2 separate regions of the Homo sapiens genome follow, and region 2 is linked to region 1. The links come from fine-mapping of genetic effects on gene expression. A gene starts in region 1. The other region holds a variant in brackets. All regions are shown on one strand. Distances are between the middles of the regions. Region 1 holds the start of RSL1D1 (ribosomal L1 domain containing 1). Region 2 overlaps SNX29 (sorting nexin 29).

Region 1 (2,909 bases):
CGGGAAGCGAAGGATACAGTGAGCCCAGATCGTGCCACTGCACTCCAGCCTGTGCGACAGAGCGAGACTCCATTACAAAAAAAAAAAAAAAAAAAAGGAAAAAAATTAATTAAACCCATCCAACAAGAGAAAGGAGAAGTATCTCCTAAACATGCCTAGAACATCTCTGGAAGGTTCCAGGAGACACTGGTAAGGGTACCTCTGGGGAGGCGGGTGGAGTGGGAGGAAGACATTACAAAGCAAACCTGTCCTACCCAAGGGCCGCGTGCGGCCCTGGAGGCCAGGCTTTGAATACAGCCCAACACGAATTCGTAAACTTCCTTAAAGCATTACGAGATTTTTTTTAGATTTTTTTTTTAAAGCTCGTCGGCTATCATTAGTATTAGTTTTATATATGGGCCCAGGCAATTCTTCTTCCAGTGTGGCCCACGGAAGCCAAAAGATTGGACTCCCCTGTTCTAAGGTATTCCATTTGTCAGTTATCCAGCCTCCACTCCTAACCTGTTTGTTTAGCGACAAGGTCTCACTCTACTGCCTACGCTGGAGTGCAGTGGCGCGGATCAGAACTCACCGAGCCTCGAATTCCTCAAGATCCTCCATCCTCCGCCTCCCAAGTAGCCGGGACTACAGGCGCGCACCACCACGCCGGCTAATGTTTATAATTTTTGGAGAGACGGAGTCTCGTATATGCACGGACTGGTCTCCAACTCCTGGAATCCCTCCGCCTCGGCCTCCCAGAGCGCTGGGATTCCAGACGCCAGCCACGCGCACGACCAGCCACGCTTATTTGTACAGGATCTTACCTCCCGCCTCTCTGCGAGACCAGAAGCTCCTAAGAGACTGGCCCAGACTCATCTTTCGGTCCCTCATGCTGCTTAACGTGGCAGGTCGGGTGGCTCCGGGTGGCTCCCGTGCCTTATATTTCAGGGACTCCTCACCAGCCTGGGGTTGGCGTCGCCTAAAGTCAACGGGCAGGTGGGCAGTGGAGCCAGGATTCCGCGCTCTGCCCATGCCACGCGCGGCCTTCCCGGAGGCGGGGACCGTGGAGTGTGGAGGACCCCACTGGGCCTCCTGACGGGACTCTTCTCTCGCCTCAAGGCGCTTTCTTGATTTCTATCTAGTAAGAGTGAGAGGACACCCAAGCTACTCCCCACAGCTCATGGAAAGCTGGAGAAAAGCGGAAGAGCAGGTGCCTCCTCAAAGAAGGGATTCTGACAGCAGCCACTGCCCCGGAGAGCGAAACCCCACGCTCTCCCGGAAATGACGCACAGAGGCTCGGTTCCCGCCCCCTCGCTTCCGGGGCCGGGCTTGCTCGCGCGTGCGCACCAGAAGCCAGCAGTGGGGTTGCACACGCGCCTCTTCACGAGGTGGAAACAAGATGGAGGATTCGGCCTCGGCCTCGCTGTCTTCTGCAGCCGCTACTGGAACCTCCACCTCGACTCCAGCGGCCCCGACAGCACGGAAGCAGCTGGATAAAGAACAGGTGAGTGGTTCCTGGGGAGGGTGGCTTGGAAGCAGTGTGGCGGTTACCTCGTGAGGCGCAGGGTGCCGGAACCCGAGTGCGTGCTCGGCGGACTTCCCCGGGGCTGTGGGACGGTCGCTGGCGGGCCGTGTGCCTCAGCTGTCTCTCCCCTTTACACACGTGGGTGGGCGCCTGCTTTCCCTGGTCCTGCGGCCTGGCGCTAGTGAATTGGGTTGCAAGTGTGCTGTGGAGCTAGATGAGATAGACCTGGCGACCTGGCTTAGCTTCCCTATCATTAGCGCTTGACCGAATCGCTTAGTTTTGCAGGTCTGTTACCCGTTATTTAAAGTGGGCCCTTCGGCTCCCCGTTATCCAGGATCGGGAGAGGTAATGAGTGTAAAGCGCTTTGGCCTGGTACATGGTAAGAAGGTGCTCAGTAGGCCGGGCGCGGTGGCTCACGCCTGTAATCCCAGCACTTTTGGAGGCCGAGGCGGGTGGATCACCTGAGGTCAGGAGTTCGATACCAGCCTGGCCAACATGGTGAAACCCCGTCTCTACTAAAAATACAAAAATTAGGTGGGCGTGGTGGCGGGCGCCTGTAATCTCAGCTACTCGGGAAGCTGAGGCAGGAGAATTGCCAGGAGTTCTCAGTAAATGCTAAATGCATTTTGCTTTGCGTTTTTCCTGGGATTACTGCTTTCATCATTGAGGGCAGGAGGGGCACGTTTCCCTCTAGCCCAATCTCTTTAAGTAGAAGAGGTGCCCTTCTGCACACAGTACTGGAAGTGGGTACTTAGGCATGTTTGATGGATTCTTAGATTTCTGTGAATATAAACTGCAGGATCCTAATAGATACGGTTATGGAGGTTACCCCTTGAAATAGAAGTTGGAAGGGAAAAAATAGAAGGTGTGGGAGGGGGCAAATGCTAAATTAGATTGAGAACATTTCATTTATTTGTGTAAGTTATTGTGAAAACATTTCACTTATTTGTCTAATTTCCACTTTGCAGGTTAGAAAGGCAGTGGACGCTCTCTTGACGCATTGCAAGTCCAGGAAAAACAATTATGGGTTGCTTTTGAATGAGAATGAAAGTTTATTTTTAATGGTGGTATTATGGAAAATTCCAAGTAAAGAACTGAGGGTCAGATTGTAAGTTGTGATTTTCTACCTTTGCTGTTTTTATCTGTGTGTTTATTCTTTGTAACTCGAACAATTGCATCATGGTTACTAATGGAAACTTTGCAAACTTATAATAAAAATCTGACGTGAAGTAAAACAACTATGTCCAAAAGAACCATAGAGGCTTGATGTGGTGGCTCACACCTGTAATCCCAGCACTTTGGGAGGCCGAGGTGGACGGATCACCTGAGGTCGGGAGTTCAAAACCAGCCTGGCCAACATGGTAAAACCCTGTCTCTCCAAAAATACAAAAATTAGCCAGGCATG
Region 2 (2,909 bases), 270 kb before region 1:
ACTAAAAACACAAAAATCAGCCGGGCATGGTGGCAGGCACCTGTAATCCCAGCTACTCGGGAGGCTGAGGCAGGGGATGACTTGAACCCAGGAGACGGAGGTTGCAGTGAGCCGACATGGTGCCACTGCACTCCAGCCTGGGTGACAGAGCAAGACTCCATCTCATAAAAAAAAAAAAAAAAAAAAAAAGGTGGTCTGTATATCTACTATCTACAGTCTTCTTTTAAAAGGCATCATGAGCACTTTAGCTTTAAAGGAGTACTCACCAGAATTAAAAGCACAAAGTTGCAGAGGTTGCTTCCAGCAGTAGAAGCAATGGAACTAAGCGAAAGGCTTACTTGGCTAGTGAGAAGCGGGTGGGGAGCGGTGGCACAGCTGAAAGTTTTTTTTCTTTGTTTTTATTTTTGAGACAGAGTCTCGCTCTGTCGCCCAGGCTGAAGTACAGTGGTGGGATCTCGGCTCACTGCAACCTCCGCCTCCCGTGTTGAAGCAATCCTCCTGCCTCAGCCTCCCAAGGAGCTAGGACTACAGGCACATGCCACCACACCCGGCTAAGTTTTTTTGTATTTTTAGTAGGGACAGGGTTTCACTGTGTTAGCCAGGGTGGTCTCAATCTCCTGACCTTGTGATCCGCCCGCCTCAGCCTCTCAAAGTGCTGGGATTACAGCTGTGAGCCACCGTGCCCCGCCAAACTGAAGGTTTTTTAAAAATCATGTACTGAGGTACGATTCATATCACATAAAATTAACCATTTGAAAGTGAACAATTCAGTGGCCTTTAGTACGTTCAAAATGTTGTGCAACCATCACTACTATCCAGTTCTAGAACGTTTCTACCACGCCAAAGCAAAACCTCTTACCCATTAAGCAATTTCTTCCCATTTCATCCTCCTCCCTGGCAACCTCTGATCCACATTGCGTCTCTATGAATTTACGTACTCCAATGCTTCACAGAAACGGAATCATCTCTTATGTGGTCTTCTTTTTTAATAGAGTCTTTTTGCCTGGCTCCTTTGACTAAGCCTGTTTCCACGGTTCGTCCGCGTTGAAGCACGTATTGACCACGCCTGTTTCCACGGTTCGTCCGCATTGAAGCACGTATTGACCACGCCTGTTTCCACGGTTCGTCCGCACTGAAGCACGTATTGACCACGCCTGTTTCCACGGTTCGTCCGCATTGAAGCACGTATTGACCACGCCTGTTTCCACGGTTCGTCCGCGTTGAAGCAC[G/A]TATTGACCACGCCTGTTTCCACGGTTCGTCCGCATTGAAGCACGTATTGACCATGCCTGTTTCCACGGTTCATCCGCGTTGAAGCACGTATTGACCGTGCCTGTTTCCATGGTTCGTCCGCACTGAAGCACGTATTGACCACGCCTGTTTCCATGGTTCGTCCGCACTGAAGCACGTATTGACCACGCCTGTTTCCATGGTTCGTCCGCATTGAAGCACGTATTGAACACGCCTGTTTCCATGGTTCGTCCGCACTGAAGCACGTATTGACCACGCCTGTTTCCATGGTTCATCCGCATTGAAGCACGTATTGACCACTCCTGTTTCCATGGTTCGTCCTCGTTGAAGCACGTATTGACCGTGCCTGTTTCCACGGTTCGTCCGCGTTGAAGCAGGTATTGACTAAGCCTGTTTCCATGGTTCGTCCTCGTTGAAGCACGTATTGACTAAGCCTGTTTCCACGGTTCGTCCGCGTTGAAGCAGGTATTGACTAAGCCTGTTTCCACGGTTCATCTGTGTTGAAGCATGTATTGACTAAGCCTGTTTCCACAGTTCATCCACGTTGAAGCATGTATCAGTGCCTCATTCCTTCTTTTTTTGAGAAGGAGTCTCACTCCGTGGCCCAGGCTGGAGTATGGTGGCGTGATCCTGGCTCACTGCAACCTCTGCCTCCCGGGTTCAAGTGATTCTCATGCCTCAGCCTCCCAAGTACCTGGGGCCACAAGTGCCCGCCACCACACCCGGCTAATTTTTGTATTTTTTAAGTAGAGATGACGTTCACCATGTTGGCCAGGCTGGTCTCAAACTCCTGACCTCAAGTGATCCACCCCGCCTTGGCCTCCCAAAGTGGTAAGATCACAGGCATGAGCCACTGCGCCCGGCCCCTCATTCCTTTTATAGCTGAATCATGTTCCACTGTATGGATATGCCACAATTTGTTAATCCATTCTTCAGATAATGGACATTTATACTGAGCTGTTTCCACCTTTTGGAGATTGTGATCATGTTGCCATCAACCTTTGTGCATAGTTACCTGTTTGAGTCTCTACTTTCAGTTCTTTTGGATGTGTACCTAGAAGTGGAATTACAGGGACATGCGGTAATTCCACTAACGTTTTAAGGATCCACCAAACTGTTTCCCACAATTAGGAGAGAGAGTTTTTCAAAATCACTATATTGCACTTACAGGAGAGTTTGGAAATTAGTATGGCAGATATCTTTGTCTCCATCACCTGGCACGGTCAATTTGGATTATTTCACCACAATGAATCCAAATATTGTTTAACACTAAATCCTTACTGATCCAGTTGAAAAAGCAGTTAGGGAGAGTGGGACGAGGGTGGAAAGGAAGACAGCTGCTCCCCTAAGAATACTCCTCTTGCGGGGTGCAGTGGAGGGCTTATCCATCAATTACACAAGAGGCTCACTCACTTCTCCGTCAGTGGGCAGAGAGCTGCAAGCGAGGTACACATGTGTTTCACAAAGAAAGGCCTCGAGGAGGAACATATTGCAGAAACCCGCCAAAGGACCAGGTTCAGGTGACAAGTGGAGTACAGGTGTTAATTAGATGGCTCCAGATAAATGTGAAACCGTGCATAGTGGAGCCTACCCATTCTTCACTGCAAAACACAAAATCAGTAGGTCTGCAAGAAGAGATGGCACATTCTGCAAAGATATTC

The links.
Region 2: its variant is fine-mapped to the expression of RSL1D1 in whole blood (INTERVAL, PIP above 0.99).

The regions. Positions count from the first base shown.
Region 1 is chr16:11,849,982-11,852,890 of GRCh38, reverse strand. It overlaps RSL1D1 (ribosomal L1 domain containing 1), which reads left to right and starts at 1,349. Exons shown (of 9, transcript NM_015659.3): 1 at 1,349-1,483; 2 at 2,473-2,612. The coding sequence starts at 1,379. RefSeq lists enhancers at 147-680, 681-1,215, 988-2,187 and a silencer at 1,233-1,419.
Region 2 is chr16:12,115,594-12,118,502 of GRCh38, reverse strand. The region is part of intron 11 of SNX29 (sorting nexin 29); the gene reads right to left. Among named protein-coding and RNA genes, the nearest start is that of SNX29, 140 kb to the right of the region's middle. The variant G/A (reference allele first, on the strand shown) is at 1,230.